Regions from separate parts of the Homo sapiens genome. Here region 1 is linked to region 2. Evidence: fine-mapped expression QTL. Tissue or cell type: whole blood. Region 2 holds a variant in brackets; the other region holds the start of a gene. All regions are shown on one strand. Distances are from middle to middle.

The links. PIP is the estimated chance that this variant, and not a neighbour inherited with it, causes the effect.
Region 1: SLC35F2 starts here. The variant in region 2 is fine-mapped to the expression of SLC35F2 in whole blood (INTERVAL, PIP above 0.99). The same link has a PIP of 0.9 or more in fibroblasts and lymphoblastoid cells.

What each region holds. Positions count from the first base shown.
Region 1 is chr11:107,854,516-107,862,287 of GRCh38, forward strand. SLC35F2 (solute carrier family 35 member F2) reads right to left here and starts at 4,272. Exons shown (of 8, transcript NM_017515.5): 1 at 4,143-4,272. The coding sequence starts at 4,252. LOC124902746 (a long non-coding RNA gene) reads left to right here and starts at 4,715. Exons shown (of 2, transcript XR_007062876.1): 1 at 4,715-5,139; 2 at 5,231-6,474. RefSeq lists an enhancer at 3,798-3,867 and a silencer at 4,088-4,397.
Region 2 is chr11:107,788,225-107,795,996 of GRCh38, forward strand. It overlaps SLC35F2 (solute carrier family 35 member F2), which reads right to left. Exons shown (of 8, transcript NM_017515.5): 8 at 2,767-4,576. The coding sequence ends at 4,391. Among named protein-coding and RNA genes, the nearest start is that of SLC35F2, 67 kb to the right of the region's middle. RefSeq lists a silencer at 2,351-2,560. The variant A/G (reference allele first, on the strand shown) is at 3,840.

The sequences.
Region 1 (7,772 bases), 66 kb after region 2:
ATATTTTTCACTTGAGTTGACAGTAATAAATCACAAAAGCCAAAATTACACACTCCACTAAGGAATATATGGTTCTCATTATCATGAATGTCTGGCACATGGTAAGTGTTCAATAAACTTTTATTGAATGAGTGATCTGATATTCCTAATCATAGAGAAAAGTTGTCTGTACCCTATGGGGGCAGGTATATTAAGAGCTGGGGTCACTTAGAACATATCCTCCTCATAATGAAAACATAACAAGCTCTATGCCCCAATCTTCTCCCTGTATTTAGTACCCAGTTGCCCAAAAAGCCTCTTCTTGCCCCTTTTTGGTAAAAGGAATAGAAATGAGCTATGTGGTTATAAATCTCTCTCTGTATCTTGCCCATATGGTGATAACACATCATATCCATTCACCAACCTCTTTCTACACTCTCCCACCCTTGGTTCCCTGGCCACAGGTGGGGATTCACAAAGCTACTCAAACTTGGGACATGAGTTTTGACAACAAAGCTTAAAATATTGAGTATTAGGAGTACTGGATATCTGGTAAACCACTCTTTTCTGATTGCTGGGTCTGATAAAGAGAAACTGCAATCCAAAATCCAAGTGCTTGGATGGCTGCCAGAGGTAGGAATGGAAACTTTAATTAACAAAAGAGCCCAGCCAACCAAACAAGAAGCTCAGCCCAAGACCCTTGGAATAAAGACCAATAAAGGGAAGAGTTCAGGGAGGGAGGCAGAATGGAAAGGAAGACTTGTGAACCTTTGTCATCCCTCAGTCATTCACTCATTCATTCATTCATGTGCTAAGGGTTGTGGTAGATATAAAAAAGAAAAAGACACCATTTTTGCTGTTAAAGAACTTCGTCCATGGCCAGGCGTGTGGCTCACACCTGTAATCCCAGCACTTTGGGAGGCCGAGGCGGGCGGATCACCTGAGGTTGGGAGTTCGAGAACAGCCTGACCAACATGGAGAAGCCCCATCTCTACAAAAAATACAAAATTAGCCAGGTGTGGTGGTGCATGCCTGTAATCCCAGCTACTTGGCAGGCTGAGGTAGAAGAAGAGCTTGAACCCGGGAGGCGGAGGTTGCGGTGAGCCGAGATCGCGCCATTGAACTCCAGCCTGGGCAACAACAGTGAAACTCTGTCTAAAAAAAAAAAATGCCCATAACTGCTATTCCACAAGAAAGGAAAAAGCCCTCAAAGAGATACATAAAAAGGACATTCATAGACAAAAGAAATCTCATATTTAGGAGGCTACTAGACTGATTATAAAACATACCCGGATTCCAAAAGTATCAGAACATTAGGAGAGAAAAAAAAAAATCAGGCCAGGCACGGTGGCTTACGCTTATAATCCCAGCACTTTTGGAGGCTGAGGTAGATGGATCACCTGAGGTCAGGAGCTCAAGACCAGCCTGGCCAACATGGTGAAATCCTGTCTGTATTAAAAATTAGCCGGGCATGGTGGCAGGCGCCTGTAATCCTAGCTACTCAGGAGGCTGAGGCAGGAGAATCACTTGAACCCGGGAGGCAGAGGTTGCAGTGAGCCATGATCGTGCCGCTGCACTCCAGCCTGGGCAACAAGAGCAAAACTCTGTCTCAAAAAAAAAAAAAAAAAAGAAGAAGAAGAAAAGAAAAGAAAATCATTGTTAATTCTTATCACATCTTGTTAAACATACATCTTGCCATATCATCTGCCCCAGCCTCAAGGCCACTGGCATCTCCTGAAGCAATCACCAAATGTTCCCATCACCCAAGAATAGAGAGCTAATGGTGACAACTAACCCATATAGAGCACTGAAAGGAGCCAGGCTCTGTCTGCCCTTTCCTGCATAGTAACCTTGTAACAGCACTACAAGGTAGGTACTGTTATTATCTCCATTTTACAAATAAGAAAACTGGAGCACAGGCTGGGCGCGGTGGCTCACGCCTGTAATCCCACTACTTTGGGAGGCGGAGGTGGGTGCATCACTTGAGGTCAGGAGTTCAAGACCAGCCTGGTCAACATGGGGAAACCCCATCTCTACTAAAAGCATGAAAAAATTAGCCTGGCGTGGTGGTATACATCTGTAATCCCAGCTACTTCGGAGGCTGAGGCAGGATAATCGCTTGAACCCGAAAGGTTGAGGTTGCAGTTAGCTGAGATAGAGCCTCTGCACTCAGGCCTGGGTGACAGAATGAGACTCTGTCAGGAAGGAAGGTGACAGAATGAGACTCCGTCAGGAGGGAGGGAGGGAGGGAGAGAAAAGAGGGAGGGAGACTGGAGCACAGAGAAGTTAAGTGACTTGTCCAAGAAGGGAGGGAGGGAGGGAGAGAGGGAGACCGGAGCACAGAGAAGTGACTTGTCCAGGAAGGAAGGAAGGAAGGCAGGAAGGAAGGAAGGGAGGGAGGGAAGGAAGGAAGGGAGGGAGGGAGGGAGGGAAAAGAGGGAAGGAGACTGGAGCACAGAGAAGTTAAGTGACTTGTCCAAGAAGGAAGGGAGGGAGGGAGACTGAAGCACAGAGAAGTGACTTGTCCAGGAAGGAAGGAAGGCAGGAAGGAAGGGAGGGGCGGAGGGAGGGAACTGGAGCACAGAGAACTGATTTGTCCAAGGTCACCCAGCAGAAGGAAGGGAGGAAGGAAGGGAGGAAGGAAGGGAGGGAGGGAGACTGGAGCACAGAGAAGTTAAGTGACTTGTCCAAGACGGACGGACACGGACGGAAGGAAGGAACAAAGAAGGAGGGAGGGAGGGAGGGAGGGAACTGGAGTACAGATAACTGACTTGTGGAAGGAAGGACGGAAGGAAGGAGAGAGGGAACGAAGGAAGGAGAGAGGGAAGGAAGGAAGGAAGGAGAGAGAGGGAAGGAAGGAAGGAGAGAGGGAGAGAGGGAGGGAAGGGAGGGAACTGGAGCACAGAGAACTGACTTGTCCAAGGTCACCCAGCCAGGATTTGAGTCCAGAATGTGAGTGCCCTTAGCCATTACACTGAATTGCCTCCCAGCTGAGAACTTTTAACAAATGTATCAGGACATACACAACTGGATGCTACAAGGTGGTTTTCGGCCAACTTTCCCCTTTAAACACATGCATCAATTTCAAACTATTTATATGATAAAAAATGCTTACACCTTTATCGATCTCGTTTTTAAAATGGTATGGCTTTTCAGGACTATCTTTCACAATCGTTAAAGGGAAATTCGCTTTGTTAATATGAAAAAAAAATCAAATATCTGTTTCATGAGTTGTCAGTGGCCAACGCTGTTTAGACTACGGCTTGAACGCATCACCCCTTAAAGATCATCTTGTGGCCTTGGGCAAATTGCTTAGCCTTCTTTGTTTCTCCAGCGGCAAAGTGGATATAACAATAGTACCATCTCCTAAAGTGGTGAGGATTAGCTGATATTATCCATATAAATTGTTATGCACAGTACCTGACACAGAGCGAGTGCCCAATAAATGTCTTTCACTATTTAGGTCCTGGGTTCTCTCATTTCCAGAGTGCAAGTCCTCCAGCAACCACAGAAACGCTTTCTAGAGTCGCTGCCCACTCCTTAAAAACATTTGTCCCTACTTCGCACAGAGCATAGTGATACCACAAACAGGCTTCCCTGGACCCCAGCCCTGGGGGTGGCTATATCACCTCGCTCAGGCCCAGGAAGAGAGAGCCGGCTCTGGTCTCCCACCCGGCAGCAGCACAAAACTTAACCAGGATTTCTCACTTCGGTCAACTCTTGAATCACCGCGCCCAGTCTGGCTGGCTCGGCAGCAGATGGAATGAGGGCGCCGGCGCCAGGAAGTGGCGCTCACCCACCTGCCCAGCCCGAGGTGGGCACTCCTCCTTCACAGCATCCCCGGGGACCTCGTCCCTCCACCGCGGAACGCCCCAGAGGACCGACCTAATAGTGCCACAGGGTGGGTTTCCCCCCAAATCCTCCAAAATACATCGCCACGATTTCGAAACGGGAGCCGAGGGAGACGCACCAAGTGCTTCCCGACGCCAGGTGAAGCGCACCATACCTGGTGTGCGTGTTGAGCCCCGAACCGAAGTCCGTGCGGCCGCCACCTCTGCCTCCCTGCTGGGGGCCTCAGAGAGTGTGCTCCTTGTCCACGTGCGCGCAGGGCCCGCAGCCGCCCCCACGCCCCAGCGGAGCTGCAGCACGCCCCTTCCACTCACCAGGTGAAGAGTTTGCCTTTTATCCTGCGCAGCAGGCTGGAGAACTCGGCCGCCGCTCCCTCCGCGAGGGGCTCTGGGGCGCCGGGGCCCGCTGGCGAGTCTGCCTCCATCGGCGCCCTTGCGCGTCTCCGGCGCCCAAAACCCCCGAAGTGCCGGGTCCCGGAAGACGGGAGGCGGTGCCTGTGCGGCCGGCTGGGGCTCCGCTCTGGCCCTGCGCTCCCTCCCTCGCTCGCTTGCTCGCGTCCCTCTCGCTCCTCCGCTCGGCTCCTTCAGCGACCAATCATTAACTGTCAAGCCCTAAGGGCCAGACAATACATTTGCAGATTACAACCTGGCACCTCCAGGGTGGCAGGAGGAGAAAGGGCAATTTTTTTTTCGTCTTGGCAGCCGAGCCTTATTGTTGAGCGGCACCCAGTGTGCCTTCAGGTTTTTAGGGTTCCTTGTTTGAAATCACAAGATACAGTGACACGAGGTTATTGTAGGTGATTCCTAAGCTAAGAAGCGGTGAGTGAGCAGTGAGTTAGAAGCAGTGAGTGAGCCGGGACTCTCCTAACTGGAAGGACTGGCTGACCCCTCCTCTTCCCTCCCACTCTCCCTCCCTCTGGCTGATTTGTACAAAATCGCTTCATTAAAATAACTGAAGGCTGGCAGGGCGCGTTGGCTCACACCTGTAATCCCAACGCTTTGGGAGGCCGAGACGGGTGGATCACCTGAGGTCAGGAGTTCGAGACCAGACTGGGAAATATGGTGAAACCCCGTCTCTACTAAAAATACAAAAATTAGCCGGGCGTGGTGACGGGTGCCTGTAGTCCCAGCTACTCGAGAGGCTGAGGCAGGAGAATCGCTTGAACCCAGGAGGCGGCGGTTGTGAGCCAAGATCGCGCCTTTGCACTCCAGCCTGGGCAACAGAGGGAGACGTCGTCTTAAAAAAAAAAAAAAAAAAAAAAAAAACCTGAAGGCGCTTCAGGTCTGTGTCGCTTTTCCCTGCAAAACATGGGTAAGATCCTAAAAAGATCTTGGAAACGTGCCTTTGTGGCGTGGATGGAGGCGTGGCTCATTCCTCGCGGTGTGTTGGTTTTGTCTTTCAGTATTCAGTTGTCTCCGCCGTGCCAGGGAGAGAGACGGTGCCAACCCCCGGCGCTCGGCTTGGATGCCCTGCCCTGGCCACGCCTTCCGAGGCTTCCACGGGCTAAAGAGGGATTAAGAGACACTAAGCTGGGGTCGAAAAGTTCCTGTCACTGACCCCCTGCTTCCGGAAAGGAGGAGATCCAGAAAACAAAAGAAAAGGTGTTGGGACCTTTTATTTTTTCCTGGCCACCTGCTTTGGGGGTTGGGGTGGGTCAAAATAAACGTAGGTTCAAATAGACAGGCTGTGCAGACGAGCTGGCAATTCTGTAAGAGGAGTCTAAGAAAAAAAACAGCTTTCGAAAATGAAATATTACTTCAGGAACCCCAAGTTTAGCAGCTGCAGGAACCTCAAAAAAACCTTTGAAACTAAGAACGTGGTCATCCGTAGAGACTAATTAAGTATTATAATACAAGCATATTATGAAACAAGAGGACATTAGAAGCACATTTAAGATGTCACTTTTGTAAAGTAAACAACTCATTTAACCCTGCATATTGACAACGTTGAATTCTACCTGAGCCCTGTGCTCCTGGAAAGTAATGACAATTAAGAAACCTTCCTAGGCCGGGCGCGGTGGCTGACGCCTGTAATCCCAGTGCTTTGGGAGACCGAAGCGGGCGGATTACTCCTGAGGTCAGGAGTTCGAGACCAGCCTGACCAACATGGCGAAATCCCGTCTCTACTAAAACTACAAAAATTAGCCCGGCGTTTTGGTGTGTGCCTGTAATCCCAGCTACTTGGGAGGCTAAGGCAGGAGAACCACTTGAACCCGGGAGGCAGAGGTTGCAGTGAGCCAAAATCGTGCCACTGCACTTCAGCCTGGGCAACAGAGTAAGACTGTCTCAAAAAAAAAAGAAAGAAAGAGAGAAAGAGAGAAAGAAAGAAAGAGAAAAGAAAAGAAGCCTCCCACCTTTTTTTTTTTAATCAAAGATTTTGGTTGAATTTCTCTTCCTCCCTCATACCTCTGAACTTTCACCCACCCTGACCCTGAGCCGCAGGTAACCCCTCCTTAATAGCCCCTCCTGAGAAGTTGGCCTCAGGGTGAAACATTCTCTAATCTATTATCCAGTGGAGAGCCACCTTTTCATTCCACTTCCCACCAGTAGGGAATAGGCCCCCTCCTACTGCAGGAACCCTTCCCCACAGTCCCCACCCATCCCCATTTGCAATAATCCCTACAAATAAAGTCTCTCCTTAACCAAATTTGATTTTTTATTTGCAATATATACAGTAGTCACCTCCTTACCTGAGGTTTTGATTTCCACGGTTTTAGTTACCACAGCCAATTACCCTCTGAAAATAGGTGACTAGAGTATAGTAAGATATTTTGAGAGAGAGACCACATTCACATAACTTTTATTACAGTATATTGTTATAATTGTTCTATTTTATTATGAGTTGTTAATTTCTTACTGTGCCAATTTTATAAATTAAATTTTATTATAGGTATGTGTAGGAAAAAAGTATATACTGTATAGGGCTAAATACTCTCTGCAGTTTCAGACACCCACCGGGGGTCTTGAAACATAAGGGAGGACTACTATGTTTGATTATGTGAGTATGAAGAAAAATAGAAGATACACGTCAACACCAGTAACTTTAAAAGAGGGTGGGGGGCCAGGCACAGTAGCTCACACCTGTAATCCCAACACTTCAGGAGGCTGAGGCAGGAGGATTGTTTGAGCTCAGGAGTTTCAGACCAGCCTGGGGCTACATAGTGAGACAGTCTTTTAAAACACACACACAGACACACACACACACCCCCCAAAAAAAAACTCCGGCACGTATAATAGAGTCCCCCCGCTTTTATTTTTTTTTTCAGACGGAGTCTCTCTTTGTCAGGCTGGAATACAGTGGTGCGATCTCAGCTCACTGCAACCTCCAACTCCCTGGTTCAAGCAATTCTCCTGCCTCAGCCCCCCAAGTAGATGGGACTACAGGCATGTGCCCATGCCCGGCTAATTCTTGTATTTTTAGTAGAGACAGGAGTTCACCATGTTGGCCAGGTTGGTCTCGATCTCCTGACCTCGTGATTCACCTGCCTCGGCCTCCCAAAGTGCCAGGATTACAGGTGTGAGCCACCACGCCCGCCAATAGAGTCCCTGTTATGTCAAATGTATGCCTTTGTATAAATACATGAAATTAAAAGATGAATTTAGACATTGTAGCAAGCTGAATAATGTCCCCCAAAATATCCAGGTCCTAATCCCTAGAACCTGTGAATGTTGCCTTGAGTGGCAAAATGGACTTTGCAGATGTGATTAAGTTACACACCGTGAGATGGAGAGATTATCCTGTGGGCCATAATGTAATCACAGTGTCATAGGAGGGAAACAGAGGCCAGGCATGGAGGCTCACACCTGTAATCCCAGCACTTTGGAAGGCTGAAGCGGGTGGATCACGAGGTCAGGAGTTCGAGACCAGTTTTGCCACCATGGCGAAACCCCCATCTCTACTAAAAATACAAAAATTATCCAGGCATGGTGGTGCACGCCTGTAAT
Region 2 (7,772 bases):
CGTGCCACTGCACTCCAGCCTGGGTGACAGAGCCAGACTTCCCTCAACAAAACAAATCCAAGAGAAGTGAGTTTGGGGAGCTTCTGGATAGCTGAAGCCATGAAGGTTCCTGGAAAGTGGTGTGCCCAGGGAGAGCATGGAAGCCCCTTGCCCCTTCCCCCATGCTTTGCCCTACACATCTCTTCATCTGTATCCTTTAAAATACTTAGACACGATAAACATTCAATATCTGTTTAGTGAGGAGGGACACAAATCATATTAGTTGTAAGGGGTGACTTCAGGTTTCTCTTAGAACACTCAGACTCAAGTGAGTAACTCAATTATGTTAAAACATTAACCTTCACTTGTGGTGTATTTTCTAGTATAATACATACATCAAAAATTATTCTCTAAAAATGTTTAATTTTATGTTTTGAATATATAAACAAAGCATATCTCTAAAAGTTAACAGAGATGGCCGGGCATGGTGACTCACACCTGTAATCCCAGCACTTTGGGAGGCCGAGGTGGGCAGATCACGAGGTCACGAGTTTGAGCCCAGCCTGACCAATATGGCGAAACCCCGTCTCTACTAAAAATAAAAAACTTAGCCAGACGTGGTGGCGCATCCCTGTAGTCTCAGCTTCTTGGGAGCCTGAGACAGGAGAATCGTTTGAACCCGGGAGGCAGAGGTTGCAGTGAGCCAAGATCAGGACACTGCATCTCTCAAAAAACAAAAAAAGTCAACACAGATAAGTTGAGATTTGGATGGTTTCCTAGGGTTCAAAAAATGCTATCTCCTTTTTCTTTTTCTTTTTTTTTTTTTTTTTGAGACAGGGTCTGTTGCCCAGGCTGGAGTGCAGTGGCATGATCTCGGCTCACTGGGGCCTGGACCTCCCAGGCTCAAGTGATCCTCCAGCTTCGGCCTCCAGAGCAGATGGGACTACAGGTGCATGCCACCACACCCAGCTAATTTTTGTGTTTTTTAGAGACAGGGTTTCAGCATGTTAACCCAGCTGGTCTCCAACTCGTAGCCTCAAGTAATCTGCCTGCCTCAGTTTCCCAAAGTGCTGAGAAACAGGACTAGCTGGATTTCCTTGGCTAAGAATTCCTAAGCCTAGCTGGGGAAGGTGACCTCACCCACCTTTAAACACAGGGCTAGTAACTCAGCTCACACCCAATCAGGTAGTAAAAAGGGCTCACTAAAATACAAATTAGGCTAAAAGTAGGCAGTAAAGAAATAGTCAAATCATATATCGCCTGAGAGCATGGGGAGGGGACAATGATCGGGATATAAACCCAGGCATTCGAACCGGATCGGGCAACCCCCTTTGGGTCCCCTCCCATTGTATGGGAGCTCTGTTTTCACTCTATTAAATCTTGCAGCTACACTTCTTGTCCGTGTTTGTTACGGCTCCAGCCGAGCCGTCCACCACTGCTGTTTGCTGCCGTTGCAGACCCACCATTGACTTCCACCCCTCCGGATCTGGCAGAGTGTCCACTGTGCTCCTGATCCAGCGAGGCGCCCATTGCTGCTCCTGATCAGGCTAAAGGCTCGCCATTGTTTCTGCATGACTAAGTGCCCAGGTTCATCCTAATCGAACTGAACACTAGTTGCTGGTTTCCACGGTTCTCTTCCGTGACCCACGGCTTCTAATAGAGCTTAACACTCACCACATGGCCCAAGGTTCCATTCCTTGGAATCCACTGAGGCCAAGAACCCCAGGTCAGAGAACAAAAGGCTTGCTGCCATCTTGGGTGTGGCCTGCCCCATCTTGGGAGCGGCCCACCACCATCTTGGGAGCTCTAAGAACAAAGACCTGCACGTAACAGTGCTGGGATTACAGGCTTGAGCCAGTGCACCCGGCCTACTTCCTTTTTCTAAAGTCCATCCTGGTGTATATGTATCCTAAACACCCAAATATGTAACCAAAGACTTTGTGAATGACCCTGCTCACCAAACAGCAACCTTGCAGGATCAGCAACTGCAGTTCTGACTGCGGCTGTCGCTGGTGTAAATAAAATGAAACAATGAGCAAAATAGCACAAATTTAAAACTAAACCATCAGTGTGCTAATCAAACTGAAAGTCTTCCTAAAAGAGCCAAACATTTTAACATAACCTTTCCCACTCTCATAGTTGTTAATGTTAGGGAGCAAAAACCAAACATCGATTGAAAAGGCAGTTTTAATTGGTTGCAGAAAATGAAAGGTTACTTCACTCAAAAAAGTAAAAAAAAACTCATTGTGGTAATTCAGAATTGGAAAATGTTTATTCCTGCAAATGATCGGTAAGCTTGCTCTGAATTCCCTGGAATCCCAGCATAGTCCCCAAATAGACAGGCTTGCCTCACCCCACAGAGGATACGACTCTGAAAAATTGAATATGAAGAAATACTGAATATGTCAAGTCATTCAAAATCCACAAGGAGGCCAGGCGTGGTGGCTCATGCCTGTAATCCCAGCACTTTGGGAGGCTGAGGTGGGTGGATCACTTGAGGTCAGTTCGAGACCAGCCTGGCCAACATGGTGATACCCTACTAAAAATACAAAAATTAGCTGGGCATGGTGGTGCATACCTGTAGTCCAGGTAGGAGAATTGCTGAACCCAGGAGGCAGAGGTTGCAGTGAGCTGAGATGGCACCACTGCACTCCAGCCTGGGCGACAGGACAAGACTCAAACAAAAAAAAAAGAAGAAAAAAAAATCCACAAGGGTTTTGAAGGACGGCTTTACTGGAAAAAAAATCCACAAGGGGAAATGGTTAATCAAAGAAACCACACAGTTGATGTATTTCCATGAATTCAAAGCCTTTTAATGATGTGAACACTTACTCCCCATTTCTTTTTTACATTGTTACAAAAAATTTACATACAGTTTTCTGAAAGTGGCATTTTGTTGGTTGTTATTATACTGATGACACATATTAACACTTTGTATTGAAGAAGTATCATAAAAATCACAGGGCATTACAGATTTTTGATAAGAAGTAGTAATAGCATTGTCTTTTAACAGCTGGAGGCTCCCAGGCATACTCTTTGGTGAGAAATGATTAATTTTATATTTTCATTTTGATGAGAATCTTTTCTTGTTTTTACCAGTTATAAAAACAAAGCTTTTTCTTTGTTGTGATACTGTGCACTAAGACTTAGTTTCTTGAGCTGATGCTAAATAAAATGAGATCAATAGGAATATTCCAGGAGGTCGTGAGAAGTTTTTAGAAAGGATGGCATCTACATATATATGGAGCTCTGAAAACTGTTGGAGAGTATGACCTGGGACTGAAACTGTGGAGCACATAGCCAGTGTCACAGGCTCCGAGAGCAGAGAGAGTTTGCTCTGGGACCTGGAATGAGTGATGGAGAAATGTTTTAAACAAACAAACAAACAGGCCAGGCACAGTGGTTCACATCTGTAATCCTAGCACTTTCGGAGGCCGAGGTGGGCAGATCGCTTTAGCTCAGGAATTTGAGATTAGCCTGGGCAACATGGCGAAACCCCATCTCTCTACAAAAACAAACAAAACAGGCCTGGCACGGTGGCTCAAGCCTGTAATCCCAGCACTTTGGGAGGTCGGGGCAGGCAGATCACTTGAGGTCGGGAGGTCAAGACCAGCCTGGGCAACATGGTGAAACCCCATGTCTACTAAAAATACAAAACTTAGCTGGGCGTGGGGCCACATGCTTTTGTAATCCCAGCTACTAACACTTGAATCCAGGAGGCAGAGGTTACAGTAAGCTGAGCTTGCACCACTGCACTCTAGACTCTGCATCTCAAACAAACAAAAAAACAATTGTGGGAAGGTTCCTAGGTTTACTGCACTCCAGTTTAATGCTTGTATAGTACTCACACTTATATCTCA[A/G]GACTTTTCAAGGGCTGACCCACCCGTTTTCTGCCACATGCAGTCAGCCCCAAGGCCTCATCTGTACCCAAAGGCCTGTGGACAATAACTGCCTCAGCAAAAAAAAAAAAAAAAAAAAACCTTGAAGCATCTGACAGAGGAAACGTACTCCAGAGCCACCGTGAGCTGCCCCTGTTCCTGACCACCAAGCCCAGCCTGGACAGCCTGCTTTCCCGCCCTGGCCTGAGGCTGGCTCAGTCCTGGATCTCTCCCCAGTCCTGCTTTCCCACTGGTGCCTCTAAGACCCCAGTGTGGAGTCTGCACCTCATCTCCTCAACACGAACAGATATTGGTCCTCAAACACAGAAACACACTCTTAGCTTGGTTTCTGCTCTATTTTGGTATTTCTACTTTTGAACTTTGTTCAGTGTTCCTTTCTAAAACCTAACCACTGGATCCAACCCAGGGTTGTAGAGTGTCCATTCTGAGTCTGCTATTTCCCCAAGTGTCCCCTCAGCAGGCAGCAGGCTCTGCTTTATCCTGGTGGGGGATGGGTGCGCCATCTTCTCCAGCTACAAGACAGCAGAGTGGGTCTCCTGGAGGTTCTCCTCCAGCTTCAGCCCCAGGTTGTCAATCCCAATGCTGGTGACTGGAGGCACGCTGCTTTCAGCCGGCTCGGCCGTGCGAGTAGGGGTGGAGCAGTACAGGATAAACCCCACCATGATGACAGTGAAGGACAGGATGTAGAGTCCTGAAAACTAGAAGGGAAGAACAGGCAGTGAATTGTGCCCCTCACATACACATCTTTGCTGCTGGCTTTTGCCAACTGTGCTTCGAGGATTACCCTCTCATAATCTTTTTATTTTCTTTCTTTCTTTCTTTCTTTCTTTTTAAGACAGGGTCTCGCTCTGTGGCCCAGGCTGGAGTGCAGTGGCACAATCTCGGCTCACTGCAACCTCCACCTCCCAGGCTCCAGTGATCCTCCCGCCTCAACCTCCAGAGTAGCTGACACCACAGGCACTCACCACCACACCCGGCCAATTTTTGTGTTTTCTGTAGAGACGGGGTTTTTCCATGTTGCCCAGGATGGTCTCGAACACCTGAGCTCAAGCAATCCGCCCGCCTCAGGCTCCCAAAGTGCGGGGGATTACAGGCGTGGGCCGCCATGCCTGGCCTCATGATCTTTTTTCTGAAAGTTACCTAAGGAGATGCTAATGCACAAAACCTTCCCATGTATGCTGGTGAATGATGGGACTCTGCCAACAGCACCCGGCACATAAGCCACCTGGATCCTTGGATCTTTAGGAGAAATGGACCTTTGCTTTTCTCTGTCATAATCCAGCTACACCCCACTCTGCATATAGTCCCACTTAGTGGAGAAAATAAAAGGTCATCATGGATACCACAGAGAGCCCCATTCAGACCCTAGACACTGCTTACAATATTGGTATGAAGCAGAGGAACGTAAGACTATGATGAAATGTGGAAGTACAGAAGGGGCATCTGCTCAACAGCCTCTCAATGTGTGCTATTCAATGAAATTCATTTTGCTAAAATTTAATACATTATCTTGTCTCTGTGGGCAAGTATTACATAGTAAAATTTATGGTGGACTGAGCAGATTCAGAATTGTAGAGCTAGAAAGAGCCTAAGATACTAGAAGAGTCCAAAGCCCAAAGAGGTGACTGAGTGTAAGGTCCGGTGAGGACAATCATAGGAAACAGAGCCCTGTGAGAGGCATCTCATACACTCTCTGTTCCCAGAAGGACCAAAAAGAGCAGGAGCCCATTCTGACAGAAATTTTAAAAGTATGGATGGAGTTTTTGGTGACCTTCCCCAACTTTCCCCTTCCTAAGACTGAAAACCACCACCCAGAGCAAAATGCAATGAGGAAAGAACACTAATTCATTGGGTATATATATGGAAAAATGATATACCCCAAAAGTCTAAATAAATTCTATTAAGAATTTTGTATATTTCCTCTTGAGTTGAAAATCCATACAAAAGTTGAAGTATTAAAGAAATCAGTCTGTATTTTTTCTTTTTTTTTTTTTTTTAGACAGAGTTTTGCTCTGTCTCCCAGGCTGGAGTGCAATGGCGCAATCTTGGCTCACTGCAACCTCTGCCTCCCGGGTTCAAGCGATTCTTCTGCCTCAGCCTCCCGAGTAGCTGGGACTACAAGCATGCACCACCATGCCTGGCTAATTTTTGTATATTTGGTAGAGACGGGGTTTCACCATGTTGGCCAGGCTGGTCTCGAACACCAGACCTTGTGATCCGCTCGCCTTGGCCTCCCAAAGTGCTGGGATTACAGGCGTGAGCTACCACGCCTGGCCATCAGTATGTATGTTTAGCAGCATGATAAAGCACAGAAAGAGAGTGGCTAAAGACTGACCAAGAATGGTGTACTAAAAATTAGAGAAACTATGTACTGTAACTAATGTGTAATCAAATACCCAGGGCCTTATTTTTCCTTTCAACTGGAAAAGCAAACTCAACTTATGATTAATCCTGCTAACCTGATTTTAAAATTAGGAATGGAGTAGCTAACATCATACTGAATGGGGAAAATATAAAAGCCTTACTTTTAAGAACTGGAAAAAAACAAGGATGCCCACTTTCACCACTCCTATTCAACATAGTACTGGAAGTCCTAGCCAGAGCAATTAGGCAAGAAAAAGAAATAAGAGGCATCCAAATTAGAAAAGAAGAAGTTAAATTATCCCTCTCTGTAGATGACATGATCTTATATCCAGAAAAACCTAAAGATGCCACAAAATAGCTCTTAGATCTGATCAATAAATTAGGTAAAGTTGTAGGATACAAAATCAACATATAAAAATCAGTAGCCTTTCTATACACTAATAATGAACTAGCTGAGATAGAAACCAAGAAGGCAATCCCATTTACAACAGCTACACAAAATAAAATAGGACTAAATTTAACCAAGGAGGTGAAAGACCTCTATAAGGAAAGCTACAAAACCCTGATGAAAGAAATTGAAGATGACACAAATGGAAACACCCATGCTTATGGACTGGAAGGATTAATCTCATTAAAATGAGCATACTGCCCAAAGCAATCTATAAATTCAGTGCAATCCCTATCAAAATATCAATGTTATTTTTCACATAAACAGAAAACACAATCCTAAAATTCATATGGAACCACAAAAGGGCCCAAATAGCCAAAGCAATGCTGGGCAACCAAAACAGCATGGTATTAGTATAAAATGAAAATGAACTCCTATCTCTCACCATATAAAAAAATCAACTCAAGGTGGGATTAAAGACTTAAATATAAGACCCAAAACTATAAAGCTACTAGAAGAAAACACAGGGAAACACTTTAGGACATTGGTCTAGACAAAGATTTTATGGCTAACATCTCAAAAGCACAGGTAACAAAAACAAAAATAGACAAATGGGACTATATTAAACTAAAAAGTTTCTGCACAGCAAAGAAGACAATCAACAGAGTGAAAAGATAACCTCCTGAATGGGAGAAAATATCTGCAAACTATTAATCCAACAAGGGACTAATAACCAGAGTATACAAGTAACTCAAATGACTAAAGAGTGAAAAACAAATAATCCTATTAAAAAGTGGGCGAAGGACATGAATAAACATTCACCAAAAGAAGACATAAATGGCCAACAGGTATATGAAAAAATGTTCAACATCACTAATCATCAGGAAAGTGCAAATCAAAGCCACAATAAGATATCATCTTACCTCAGTTAGAATGGCTATTATTAAAAAGTCAAAAAATAACATGCTGGCAAGGATGTATAGAAAAGGAACTCTTAGGCCAGGTGCGGTGGCCCACGCCTGTAATCCTAGCACTTTGGGAGGCTGAGGCGGGTGGATCACCTGAGGTCAAGAGTTCGAGACCAGCCTGGCCAAGATGGTGAAACCTCATCTCTACTAAAAATACAAAAACTAGCTGGGTGT